Linked DNA regions of Homo sapiens. The protein of the gene in region 2 interacts with the protein of the main gene of each other region in a pairwise test. Each region holds a gene or a part of one and is shown on either strand. Other genes may lie near its edges.

What was found. Proteins that work in one complex are often made in the same cells at the same time.
Region 1: the proteins of NR5A2 (region 2) and PNRC1 interact in a two-hybrid assay, tested with the Homo sapiens proteins (one study listed by BioGRID).

The regions. Positions count from the first base shown.
Region 1 is NC_000006.12:89,076,159-89,083,750, forward strand, and holds the start of PNRC1 (proline-rich nuclear receptor coactivator 1), read left to right. Parts: upstream 1-4,592; 5' UTR 4,593-4,736; coding exon 4,737-5,276; intron 5,277-6,392; coding exon of another isoform or gene 6,393-6,419; exon of another isoform or gene 6,420-6,577; intron 6,578-7,592. UniProt on the Homo sapiens protein: Nuclear receptor coactivator. May play a role in signal transduction.
Region 2 is NC_000001.11:200,170,645-200,177,722, reverse strand, and holds the end of NR5A2 (nuclear receptor subfamily 5 group A member 2), read right to left. Parts: intron 3,761-7,078; coding exon 3,513-3,760; 3' UTR 308-3,512; downstream 1-307. UniProt on the Homo sapiens protein: Orphan nuclear receptor that binds DNA as a monomer to the 5'-TCAAGGCCA-3' sequence and controls expression of target genes: regulates key biological processes, such as early embryonic development, cholesterol and bile acid synthesis pathways, as well as liver and pancreas morphogenesis.

The DNA.
Region 1 (7,592 bases), on a different chromosome or scaffold from region 2:
AAAAAGCAAAATAGAAGTTTGATTAAGTGTTCCTCTTTTCACACAGGTGTCCCTCACACCTTAGACATTACAGATCTAAGCAATAGGCTGGGTGAGGTGGCTCATGCCTGTAATCCCAGCACTTTGGGAGGCCAAAGTGGTTGGATCACTTGAACTCAGGAGTTCGAGACCAGCTTGGGCAACATGGCAAAACCCTGTCTCTATCAAACACGCACACACACAAATTAGCAGACATGGTGGCATGCGCCAGCTAGGGAGGATGAGGTGTGAGAATCTCCTGAACGCCAGAGGTGGAGGCTGCAGTGAGTTGTTATCGCACCACTGCACTCCAGCCTGGGTGACAGAGTGAAGCCCTGTCTCAAAAAAGAAAAAGAAAAAAAAATCTAAGTAATAATAGGTAGAAAAAATGGTAATAAAGTCTATATAAAGAGGAAAAAAGACATTCAGGGTAGGAGGAAAGAAAATGACATTTCATACAGAGAGAGGGAGAGAAAGAGGACAGAGGTAAAATACACGAGAGACAAAGGTAGATAGAAGAGAGAGAAGTGGAATTTGGAGTTCTGCTTAGTGTCAATGCGGGTAAGCTGCTTATTTCATAAATGGGCATTACCTCTTTTTTCTGCTATTTAATACCTAGTTTACTTTCCAATCTTTTATTTTTCTTCTAACCTCCTCTAAAGATTAGCTTAACAAAAATAAAATCAAGATGTACACTGGAGCAAAAAGCTTCAAGAACTCTGAGAATTCTCCTAAAATTTCCTTTACCCTTGGAATATCTTGTTACCTCCAAGTTTGGCCTTTTGGGCCCAAGCAAAAGGATCTGATTTTTTTTTTTTTTTTTTTTTTCCCTGAGATGAAGTCTTGCTCTGTCGCCCAGGCTAGAGTGCAGTGGCGTGATCTCGGCTCACTGCAACCTCTACCTCCCAGGTTCAAGTGATTCTTCTGCCTCAGCCTCCCAAGTAGCTGGGACTACAGGCATGCACCACCACAACTGGCTAATTTTTGTATTTTTAGTAGAGACAGGGTTTCATCATGTTGGCCAGGCTGGTCTCCAACTCCTGACCTCAAGTGATCCATCCACCTTGCCATCCGTGAGCCACTGCACCCAGCCTGATCTTTTTCCTTTATATCATATAGCACAGCTAACACTATATGTTTAAACCTGTAACGCTTAGGTTTAAACATTAAAATTAGACTTTACTAAAGACTAAGGGTTTACAAAGACTACCCACACAGAGTAACATTAAATCCAATCATCTGGCTTATAAAACCTCGACCTCTCTCTTCTAAGTGCCCCATTTCAGCTCCCATTCTGTTTCTTAGTGGTGGGCACCATTTTAGCAATCTCAGCACCCATCACCCAGGTGGTCACAGCTGCAAGGTTACTTTTCTTACAGTACAGAACCCAGGGCAAACATGAAGCCTACACTTAAGGCCTCAAAATGATAAGTTATACACATAATTACTCCAACAATCACCCAAGAAATACACATAGACAATAATAGGTATCTTTGACCAAGGGCCCCACAGAGCTGGCTACCAATGACCAGCTCCCTGAAGGGTAAATTATTCTCTAGGACAGTATGATATTATCCCCAGATAAAGTCAAGCCTAAAATCATGGGATATAGTGAAAAGAACACTGGACTAGGCATCAGGAGTTCGAGTTATTCCTACCTCATTTTGTGAACCCCCCCCCCCAAGCAAGTTACTATATATTTAAATTTATTTACACCATACGTTAAATAGGACCTCTCTATATCAACCTTAAAGTGCTAGAGTAAGAATAAAATGAGATGACAGATGGAAAGTGCTTTGAAAAAGTAGATTCTTTTACAGCTCTGGATGTCCATGATTCCCATCCATCCAATGAACATGAGCACTTACTATGCATTACATGTTGCAGAAACAAAAATGAGTAAAATTCAGCAATTGGAATGAAATGGAGTTTTTTTGGTTTCTTTTTTGTTTTTTGAGATGGAGTATTGCTCTGTTGCCCAGGCTGGAGTGCAGTGGCATGATCTCGGCTCACTGCAACCTCTACCTCCCAGGTTTAAACGATCCTCCTGCCTCAGCCCCCCTAGTAGCTGGGATTACAGGCACATTAGCCTGTATGCCCAGCTAATTTTTATATTTTTAGTAGAGACAGGGTTTCGCCATGTTGGCCAGGCTGGTCTCAAACTCCTGACCTTAGGTAATCCAGCCGCCTCGGCCTCCCAAAGTGCTAGGATTACAGGTGTGAGCCACCACGCCTGGCCTGAAATGTAGTTTTAAAAGCTTATAAGGTTGACTGGGTTTGGTGGCTCACTCCTGTAATCCCATCACTTTGGGAGGCTGAGACAGGCAGATGGCTTGAGCTCAGGAGTTTGAGACCGGCCTGGGCAACATGGTGAAACCCTGTCTCCACTAAAAACACAAAAAATTAGCCAGGAGTGGTGGTGTGTGCCTGTGGTCCCAGCTACTCAGGGGCGTGGGGGGCTGGGGTTGGAGGATCTCTTGAGCCTGGGAGGCGGCTGTTGCTGTAATCCGAGATCATGCCATTGCACTCCAATCTGAGTGTCAGAAAGAAACCCCGTCTAAAAAAAAAAAAAAGTTTATAAAGTGATTGGGAAGCATTTTTCTGGATATGCAATCTGTCCAACTTTGCCATCAATCATAAAACGTTTCATTGCTTACTAATTGCTTACTACTCCAAAGCTGAAAACTATTGTAGAGGCGGTGAGGATACAGAAGTGTAAGATTACTGTGGTCTTCTAATAATGTAGAATCTAGTGTGGCAGGGCTGGACGCGGTGGCTCACGCCTGTAATCCCAGCACTTTGGAAGGCCGAGGCAGGCGGATCACGAGGTCAGGAGATCAAGACCATCCTGGCCAACAAGGTGAAACCCCGTCTCTACTAAAAAATACAGAAATTAGCTGGGCGTGGCGGGTGCCTGTAATCCCAGCTACTAGGGAGGCTGAGGCAGGAGAATCTCTTGAACCAGGGAGACGGAGGTTGCAGTAAGCCGAGATGGCGCCACTGCACTGCAGCCTGGCCACAGAGTGACACGCCGTCTCAAAAAAAAAAAAAAAAAAATTAAAACTTTTGTCTTGCAGTACCTGGACTGGAGATCAAATTCTGATGTTAACTTACCGTTTGATCTTTGACAAGTCCTTTAGCCTTTCTAAGCCTGTTTCCCCAGCTGTAAAATGGGAATAAAATACAGTACTGTCCCTCCAAAAAGAAGCTGAGGCAAAATCAGGCCAAGCTTGAGGACTGCAACCCAGGACCATAGATTCAAGCTGCCCTGAATATACACTCGGATTAGCAAGTTACAAGTAGGTTTTTAAAGGAAAAGAGGCAGCTCCTAAATTGTTTACCAATTTACATTAAAATATCGTGGGCTCTTGACTAGCTATACATTGTTCTTTGTATCTTAAATTTCAGAAACTTAAAGATAATGCGTAGGCAGCTAATCAGGAACAAAATGCCTTTAAACAATTGCCCCAGGCATTAGTAGTGAAAGGAAGAGAATGACAGCCTGCCTACTTCGCAGAGCTGAGGTCTGATCTATTTTTCTTAGTACCTATTCGTAAGGGTTGTTGTGAGGTTAAAGTGAGACAATCTATGTAAAGAACAGTTCCTGGAACATAAATGCTTGATAAATTATGGCCACAATTCTTTTTTGTGGTTGAGCAGTGCGGGGAGATCGCGAAAAATTTCTATTTACGCGCAGCTAACAAAATACTCTATGTTGCAGAGCTGTTTCACTTTCTCCCTTTGAGACGCAAGCCGGCTTGCCGCCTCCTCAAGTAACCAGGCACAATGTTCTGATCCCAAAGTCTCACAATCCTTCAAGTATGAAATCAGTAAAAACTCCAACTTCCATTTATGGATTTACGGAGAACTTTTTATACATCGAGGGGCTAATTCAATCAGTAAGTCACTTTGATTTTTACTCTGATCACCGAGACTAATAAGCAGCGATGCCGAACCAAGTAAATGAAAGAATCGTGAGCCATACTTCAGTAGATAAAATTTAAATGTAGACTGATTTTCTTCACGATTGCTAGGGAAGAAATCCTTACAGCGTACTTAGAAATCTTTGTTTTAAAATGATAACGCTGTTATGTTGGGCTGAAAATAAAACGGATACTTCCCCAAGGTCAGCAGCGGAGGAGGCAACCGTGGCCTTGCCAAAGTCATCCCCTCTTCCCAGCCCCCGTTCTTCCTGCCGCCCTCCCCCTGCCCCCTCCCTTCCCCACCCCCATCAACAAACTCCGCCGGGACATTTCAGTACCACCACTCCCTAGCCCGGCGAAGCGCAGGGGCGTGCTGGGGAGGAGTAAAGAGGGTGGGGCGGAAACCCAATTTCATTGTTCGCGGGACCGATTCTTCCCAAAAGAGCTCGCTGGCAGCGCCTGCGCAGTGCGCCCTCTTTGTGCCAGGCTGCAGCAAGCTGGTTGTTTGTGTGTGTCTACCCGAAGCTGCGGAGGCGGAGCGAGGGGGCGTGGCCTGCCTTGTCGCACTCTAATTGGGCTTTCGCAGGAAAGTGGGCGGGCGCGGGGCGGAGCTTCCGATAACAACACTCGGAGCTGGGGCTGTGGCTATTTGTTGCTGCGCCGCCACCGCCCGAGTCATGTTCCGCGATCTTCTCAGGCTCTCCTAGCAGCATCCATCGCCGCCACCCTATCTTCACTGGCTTCATTCACCTTCTCCTTCTCTCTTCGTTGCTGAGCGACAAGCTTCCTAGCGCTATGACTGTCGTCTCCGTCCCGCAGCGGGAGCCGCTCGTCCTGGGTGGCCGCCTTGCGCCGCTTGGCTTTTCCTCCCGAGGTTACTTTGGGGCCCTCCCGATGGTGACCACGGCTCCGCCTCCTTTACCCCGGATCCCGGACCCCCGGGCACTGCCCCCGACCCTCTTCCTCCCTCATTTCCTAGGGGGAGATGGCCCGTGTCTGACCCCCCAGCCTCGCGCTCCAGCAGCTCTGCCCAACCGCAGCCTCGCCGTGGCGGGAGGCACTCCTCGGGCAGCGCCGAAGAAGCGGCGAAAGAAGAAGGTGCGGGCCAGCCCCGCAGGGCAGCTGCCCAGCCGCTTCCACCAGTACCAGCAGCACCGGCCGAGTCTGGAGGGCGGCCGGAGCCCCGCGACCGGCCCGAGCGGAGCGCAGGAGGTCCCGGGCCCGGCCGCCGCCTTGGCCCCGAGTCCTGCAGCCGCAGCCGGCACGGAGGGAGCCAGCCCCGACCTTGCCCCGCTGCGGCCCGCGGCTCCCGGCCAAACCCCCCTCAGGAAAGAGGTGAGGCCGCCAGGGGGCCGTTGGGGAGTCGGGCCCTTAGACGGTCGCGGCCGAGCTCTGGGGCTGCAGACCCTGCACCCGGGGGGTCGGGCGGGTGGGGGCGGGGTGGGGGGGGCGGCTGTTTACTCGGGAGGGAAGTTTCCGTGACGCCCGCTCCATTCTTGCTTTGGGGGAAGAAGGGGGAAGGGGAGGCATGCGCTGGCGCTTCTGATTGGCTCCCAGGAGTCGGCCAATGAGAAGCGCCGCTGCGCCCCAGCAACAGCCCCGATTTAGAAGGCTGGCGGCGTTCCAGGGGGTTTCGGCGTTCCGGGCGCGCGGCGGGGTGGGGGCAGGGACAGGGCCCGCGGGAGGGCTGACGTCAGCGCGCGCTACGTGCCCGGCGCTCCGGCGCCCATGAAGGAGGCGAGGCCGGGTGGGGGCAGCTGGGGAAGGACTGGGCCCGGCTTTCGGCCTCCCGGCTATCGGGAGCCCCAGTCCTAGTCGGTGAAACGCGGAGACGGCCTCTAACGTCCCGCCGTAGGGGGTGGAGTGGGCTCCGAGCGGCTGGGTTTCGTTTGGTTGGAGTTGTGCCAAAATGTGAGGTGCCCGGTGTGGGACGCGCAGTCCAGTTGGGGCTCTGCCCGCCTCGGGCCTGACCTACTTAGTGGTTCCAAGTTAAGAGTTGGCAGGAGCCGCACAAAACTGATTTTATTACTTTTGCCACTGTGGTACTTCGTGTTAGTGTGTCCAGAGTAAGTTTTCAGAAGAGTTAGCAATTGAATTGACTTAGCCCGTCTGATTGCAGTGCTATTGCATTAGGATAAAATGGATAGAAGTTTAAATAGGATTAAGTCTACGAAATGATTTCAAAGTCTTGTCAGAATAACGTTTTATGGACTTAAGTTCAATGACTTAATCTTCGTAATAATGAAATGAAAAAGTTCCCGTTATTTAGTGAAGAATGTTGCATTGAATTAGAGATTTGCGGTTTATCTGTGCCCTTGGGAAAAAATTTGCCCACCTTGTTTCTTTAAATTATCGTCTCAATGTCTCCCTTTTAAAATTCCACGACTTTTGAAATATCCGTGATTACCTAAAAGCTTTTGTGCTTGTTTCCTGGCCTGTTTTCTAGAACAGGTACTAACTAGGGAGCTCTGGCAGTGAACCTTATTGACGTGGAAAGTTGTGGTCCTCTTTCGTGTCGTGTCTTGCTTACTACCGCGTTACAAGTGTTGGTAGTGCAGTGATCTAGTGGATTACCTTACGCTTTTCCATCCTTTCAAGACTTCCTATAAGGCCCACTTAAGTTGGGAAAGATTAAGGTGAGTGAAGCAGCGTTCTTGAAGCAGTTACTAAACCAGAAAGGAGGTACACAGCAAAGATTGTTTCTGGCACTCGTATTTGGAAGAGAGCTCATTAGTCTTCCTTACAGTTGTAGAAAGGTGGACTTGGGTTATTTCAGACTTTTTTTAGTTTGACATTTTAGAACTGGTTCACGTTGCATACTGGTAACTAGCAGTGGTGATTAACTGCATTTTTAGTGGCGAACAAGAGTGAACTTAAAAGTCAAGGGAAATTTAAGTTTTTTGTTGTTTTTTTTTTCTTGAGACAGAGTCTGCCTCTATCGCACTCCAGGCTGGAATGCAGTGGCACGATCGATCTCTGCTCACTGCATCCTCCCCTTCCCAGGCTGAAGGGATCCCGCCTCAGCCAGCCTCCCGAGGCGCGTGTTACCACGCCGGGCTGATTTTTATATTTGTAGTAGACATGGGGTTTCGCTATGTTGCCCAGGCTGGTCTCGAACTCCTTGAGCTTGAGCGATCTGCTTGCCTTGACCTCCCAAAGTGCTGGGATTACAGGCGTGAGCCACCATGCCCAATTAAAGTTTTTGTAATTTTCAGCTTTTATTTTAGATCAAGGAGGTACTTGTGCAGGTTTGCTACATGGGTATATTTCGTGATGCTGAGGTTTGGAGTATGAATGATCCCATTCCAGGTAGTGAGCATAGTACCCAGTAGGTCCCCATCTCTCTCTCAACCCCCCTTCTAGTAGTGCCTAGTGTCTGTTGTTGTTCCCCACTATATCCATGTTGTACCCAGTGTTTAGCTCCCAAATTCACTTGTAAGTGAGAACTTGCGATATTTGGTTTTCTGTTTCTGCATTAATTCGTCTAGGGTAATGGCCCCCAGCTACATACGTGTTGTCACAAAGAACATAATTTTGTTCTTTTCTATGGCTGTGGGCAAACTTAAACACAACAAAACTAGATATGTGATATGAGGTTCATAACTGATTTTTATCTAGAAACTATATTTACTTTTGTGTTCTTGTCTTTGT
Region 2 (7,078 bases):
AAAGCACTTGGGAAAGTTATCAGGACAACATAAGCTCTACAAAAAAGTGAGATGCTATTAAGATTTTTCTGCTTATTGATTATAACAGTAAATGATATAAAATACTTTGTTTCACATGTAGAGATGATGCTCAGATTGAATTTAATGCTTCAGGTATCCATGGAAGGACAGCCAACCACTCTAGAAGTTATCTAAAGGGAAAAGTATCTATTCCTGTGGGATTCTTTTGATTTCACTCCTAGTCAAGTCTCTTATTTAGAAGCTTTAGTATCCGATAGAATGAGGACAACATAAAAACTTTTAAAAATTATCAGGCTGGGCATATCAATATTTATTGAAATACTGAAAAAAAAAATTCCATTTTGTTGAGAAGTTCCTGGCAAGAACTGACATGACAATATGTATTTCATTGATACAGTAAGAAAACATCAACAAGTAACTGACTTCACACTCTAAACATTGCATGGATTCAAGTCCAAGGCAGCTGCAGATCTGTGATACAAATAATCAGACATTAGAGATTGTCTGTTTACAAACATAGAGCAACTATAATAAACCAAGTTAAGCCAAAAACCTTTATATTTGAGTCTGCTTTTACCGGCAAATCCTGTAATTGATAAGGCAGTTGCTAAGTAAATGCCAGGTTACAAATCGGCTAACAATCAACATTAGAGAAACTTCACTTGTCAACCTTGGGTGAACAGACGCTGGCTGTGACGCTTTCTTGCTTATCAGCTCCTGTCGTTGGTGTGATCAGCAGTGTGGATGTAACCCGCTGTGTTGCCCGTCTTTCTAATCATTCTCATGATTTAATCTACCAGGTTAACAACATACCAATATGTGACATTTTTTAGGTTTAATTTTCAGTGGGGAGCACTGTATCTTTAAAATAAGAGAACATAGATTTTAAGAGTCAACGTAGCCAGGTATGCTGGCATGCACCCCTAGTCCCAGCTATGGGGGAGGCTGAGGCAGGAGGAATGCTTGAGCCCAGGAGTTCAAGGCCAGCCTGGGCAACATGTGAGATCAAGATCCCGCCTCTTAAAATAAAAAATAAAATAAAATAAAAATCAACATATTTGTTTTTTTGGCAATGTTAAAGACCCTCCAAATAGTTATAGTCAAATCTTATAATTGTCTCCATCCACATTACACATGCATGATAGAACCGTTTCATTAACTGTTGACCACACCATTCCTCTCCATGTATCTTCTAGCCAACTTGTTTTTCAGCTGGGGAGGGCAATGATGCTGCTGTTCTCTGTAATGCTTTGGGTATGAGCTCTGATCGGCGATTTTGCATTGTCCTTTGAGCCACGAAGATAACACGGGTGACTGAGACTGCGCATGAGTCAACGCCCAGCTTACCTAATGTGTACCCTTCATGTGGATGAGTATTAGAGGTGATTAATAAACATAATAAAATAATCCTCTTTGTACACACAGAAGTAATAACTAATATCTTTGGTATACAATTTACAATGCTTGGAAAGGAAAACCAGGTAAGACTCCACCTTGTTGAGTTTACTTGAAAACCAGAGGAAGCTACAAGTCACATAATTTACAATAGATATTAAATAAACTACAGTAGGAATGATGAAGATTTACAGACATTTAATCAAGTGAATGATTTTAATTCATTAAGACTCTTCTATGTCCCTGAACTAAGTTCCACTAATTTGAAGACATGCTACAGTAAACACATATATTTGGTTTCTTCAGTCTTGGCTATATCTTATACAAAGGTGAAACCAAGAAACAATAAATTAGCATCATAATTGTCTACAGTTGAAAGTATGATATACAATATAAATACACTACTCAAAAGCCAGAAATATTTATGAAAAAATTAAGGGACTAGGAGATACTTTTATTTTTTACAGTTTCTACAAAGTGATTGTGCCGCCGATAATCTCAAAAAAATTAAAGTCTAAATGAGATTCCCGTTTTTGATTTTAGTGTCTCACGACATAGAATAATTAAGTACTGTTAAAAATAATTACCAATCAGAAAAATAACATTAAGGAAATTACCGCTTTTGCTATTTTGTTATATCACAGATCCCCCTGCCCCTCAGGACCTAAAGAATGTAAACACTATATCTTATTTGACTTTAAAGTATTAATACTTTATTTTAAACAAATGTTGATCCACATCTGCACAGCTACCTTTTAAAATTGTGAAATAAGGCAAGACTTTCATACCTGTGGCATCGCATGTTAATAATACTGATAATAGTCATTTGAAGAATTTGCGATTCTTTGTCCTCCCATATTTGTTCTACAGCAGACTTTGGTCTATGACTTAAAAAGGTCAGTATCACTCTCTTCCTTTCCCCTTTGGGGAAGATTTGAATTACTTTAATATCTTTCCAGGACACATGTAAAAATCACCATTTCCATCCCAACTCTTGAGGATGTTCAATTGCAGCAAGAATGAACCTTGAGTCAATACATCACCTCATCCTTTCCTTTCTCTTTGCATAGATTAACATGCGTCAATTTTGTTTCCAACTACTTAGAACTGTGACTATTTGACATCCTAGCAAAATGTGTTTAATGTTGTATTTTTAAATGAACTACAAACTTGGATGATGAAAAAGACTGATGTATACTAACAAGACTTCCTGCCAGAAATTTTTTATGAAATCCAACAATGCCAAAGCCACATTTCAGCAACAGTAGCAGAAATAAGGTCTAAGTTGCTTTAGCTATGGAGCATTTGCTTTGAAAGTTTGTAGTCATTTCCCTTAATATTAATTAACACTTACATAAGATGAGGGATACTGCCTGCATTTTCTTAACATCATGAACACGAGACAAAACAACCCTCAGAACATATTTAAAATGGCAAGCTAACATATTAATAGAATTTCCTATTAGCTGTTTGCAGGTCTAAGACACAGACACTCAAAATTAGGCTGTTCATGATTTGGTGGAGCTACCACTGGGTGTGGCTGAACACAGGTCCTTAGTACAGATTCGGTGACCACAGGGCAGAGGTGCTGGGGCCTTCAAAGGAAGAGGGAGGGGCTATTGTAGGTACAGCTGATGCATTCTTGAGAATTGTTTCAGTTCAGCTTTACCATGGAGGAATCCTGTAAGCTCAAATCCCCCGCTGTATAAGCCTAATTAATAAGATTAGTTCCTAAATTTCTTCATAGTGGAGATCAGTTTAAATATACAAGAACCGTTCTGTCCGTTTTTCTTCTGACCGTGTTGGTATCCATCTGTGAGTTCAATCCACTCCATTACAATGTCTTTTATATGGAATCCTCTGGGGCTGTGAAGCCTTTGATTCACAGTTTGCAATACAAATACCCTGATACATCATTTATTTGCTATTAAGTATTTGATTATTATGCCTTTTTAAATTCAATATCTTTAAAGCAAGTTTTTAATTAGCGTTACTTGGAGCAGTTCAGAGTACTTTTTTTCTTCCTGTTCTTCTTCCCCCTCCCCACTCCCCCAATCTCTTTTTGTTTTGAAAGCAGAGCTCCTAGGGGTTGTAACTTATGCTCTTTTGGCATGCAACATTTCAATGAGAAGGTTATTATAGGGCACATCCCCGTTCAGGTGCTTGTAGTAGAGGTATTCTTCAGCCTGCATACTGATGGCCCGGATTTCGGGTAGTCGAAGAAGTAGCTGTCCAAATTTCTCTGTCTGCTGCGGGTAGTTACACATTGTGTAGTCCAGCAGGGCGGCATTGACTTGTTCCTGGACACCTTCTACCAGCTGGAAGTTTTCAAGGTTTTTGACATCTGCATTAAAAAAAAAAAAAAAAAAAGCAACATTTCAATAGCATTTCAATTCCTGTTTACTAAAGCAATGTGTTCAATTAATGGATGTATTTTCCTTTTGACATAAACATACTTTACATGCTGCTGAATATTCAGTAAACCCCACTCACCAAACTTCCTGGGAAAAGGATCACAAAAGAGCTTTAGAAGAATGTCTTGTTGAAATTCTGCATATACCTCAAATCAATTAGACACCAGTGGATTTTGAGCAAGGTCAACTCTTTTCATATCTTACAAAAGGAAAGGATTGAGGATTCCTAAAGTAGAGGGATCTTAATATATTGCCAGCAAATGAGTCCCTGGAGAAAGACCTATCTTAACCCAGTATATTACACAATTCATATAATTCTGTATTAATTTTTCTGACCCAAGGTGAAATCTGTGTCCAGGGTATGATGTAGTTAATTCTAATAAAAAGTGACAGGATTCTTGTTTCTGTTTGACATTTTCTAAATGATTCTGAAAGTCTTTGACTTGTCTAGCCTATGCTAATGAACCATCTGGTACACTCCAGTGACTGCCAACAGAATATTCGCTACTGGGAACTCTCTAAAATATATATCTTGGTGACTAATGATCTTTATCAAATGAGAGCCTTGTCCTTTAGGCAGAACACAAGCCAGGATGGTCAGTGCCCTTTAACCTGCATGTAGTTTCTAAAGTCTGATACTCTGTGTTTCTTTTTTTTCTTCTGGTCACTCATGTAGAGAAGATGAGCAAAGGCATTTCATTCCGCCTAACTCCTGATGACTATGCAGTTGTTTTTAGACATCTGCCCTAAAGGTCCTTATAAATACTGAATAAGAGAGAAAGCCAGAATAAAAAAAGACAGACTGACATACAAACACACACACAGACAATAGGCAAGGGAAAACGGTATGCTGGAATTTCTCTTCTGGGGTTGATTTATGTTAACAGTATGACTTTTATATGATGTGTACATAGAAGCCTCTGGAAAAAATAGACAGATACGTGTGTGTGTTTACATACACCCATGCTCAGAAAGTAAACAGATGCAGCCACCCTGCCCTGCTTTATTTTCTAATTGGACAAAAATAAATAAGAAAGAGAATATGGAGAAAACCACACAGTACTATGACTAAAAGGATAAAGATACTAAACTCGGTTCAAGTAATTCATACCCACTATATACTGTTTTGGGCATTATATACTGTTGAACTTAACCTACATATGTGTACATGTCCATCTTGTTATTTCTAAATGGCTTTACACTGGGCTGTCATACATTCGCTGTTGAAGTGTGTTCAGGACGATTTCAGTGTTTACATTTGGGCCATAGCTTTGCATTAAACATGCTTCCCCTTTCCATCCCCAAGTCTCTGACCCAAATTAAAAACAGTGAGGAATTAGTACTGAAATAGTTATGTAGTGAGTTGGTACCATATCTCTTTCAAAGTGAGATGGCAGACTCAAACATAGTTGATTATTCATTGATGAGTTGTACAAACATAAATACTACACAATAAGGAGCTCTGAGTCTTCCGGTGGCATTTAAATTGGCAACCACATTGGTGTGCTCTGGACATTTTACCCATGCGGCACTTTACAGTTAGTAAAGCATATTCCACCTGTCTTATTTAATATATTTTAAAAATGATTTTAAGTTACTTAAAAATATTTATAAGTATGGCTATGTATCCAGAGTCATACTTGGTTCAAAATTGCAAAATATAAACAATCAGAAATACCTTCAATATGTCCTACCTTGGTACATGATAGAAAAATCTACATTTGTTTTGCATTATAGTGATTAAAACATGACTATTAAAAATTTGAAATGCAGTATTATTTTACGCTACAGTGAAAAATACTCTCACCAGCAAGCAAAGCTAGTAACAGTCAGAGATTAATAGAGAGGATGTAGAAATTTGCATAGAATGAATGTAAAATGTAAGAAAAATGAAGAATACCCTTTTTAGAAAGTTGTTTGAAACTTTCCTTTTTTGATAATTGTATTTTTTTGAGAACCAGTTTTAACATTCTGTGATAAACTATGCTGCTCTGTTAAGGAAAAACAAAAAGAAAGAAAACTACCAACAAACATAAAACAAAGGCTAGATCATAAGTTTTGGTTTATCCACTTACTATTATAGAATGATAATTTAGAGTCTTCAGCTCAGCATTCAATGGTTAACTTCTTTCTTTTTTTTATTTTGAGACAGAGTCTTGCTCTGTTGCCAGGCTGTAGTGCAGTGGTGCGATCTCGGCTCACTGCAACCTCCACCTCCTGAGTTCAAGCAATCCTCCTGCCTCAGCCACCTGAGTAGCTGGGGTTACAGACTTGTGTCACCACACCCAGCTAATTTTTATATTTTTAGTAGAGATGGGGTTTCACCATGTTGACTAGGGTGGTCTCAAATTCCTGACTTCCAGTGATCCACCCACCTTGGCCTCCCAAAGTGCTGGGATTACAGGCGTGAGCTACTGCGTCCAGCCTCGATGGTTAATTTCTATGAATACTGGTCCAAACTGACACCCTTTTCCCCCAAAACTTGGGAAATATGTGCAATTTTCCTTCTGGCAGGAAAATATATAGGTGTCTCATATTTTGGCTAAATATACTATTTTTTGCTAAAGCTGATCAGAATTGAATCCACATGCCTGAGTTAATTATCCCATTAAGCTATTTTGATGAATGTTATCATGAAATAATAAAACATATGCTGCTAATTGTCCCAAAGATTCTTACTTGCCGAATGTCTATTTTGTTTCTACATCTATACACATGGCAATGATCCTGAAGAAGTTCTGAGTGAATTCCTCTCATTTACTGACCATGCCATTCCAGGATCATTGCTCTGCTGCCTGCCTTGATGCTGGCTTCTGTCTATTTAACTGTCTGTTTCCCTATGCAGACCGTAAGCTCCTGGGGATAAGGGATATGCTTTAGTTCAGCCATCCCCAGGGAATACACCGGTAACTCCTTGCTTCACATTATTGGTGCATTTGTCCAAGATTGATACAATTGTGAATTTGACCTGTTAAATTATTTCACAAGCCAATTTCCTTCCTTTTTCTAACTAGAAACTGATTTTCAAAAATTTGGCATATATGTAATGGATCTCTCCCTGAAATAAAATACTGTACTTTACATGTAATAGTCTTTTCTATTCAAAAAGTCCTGTGATGAATCCTTTTGTGATCTGAATAATCAAGTTCTAATTTACATGTTTTGCAAATGAGGATTTTCACTGGTCAGTTTTGTGTTAAGGGAAACGTGCTTATGTTCTCATTTGGACTGGAATCAGTCCCTGGGAT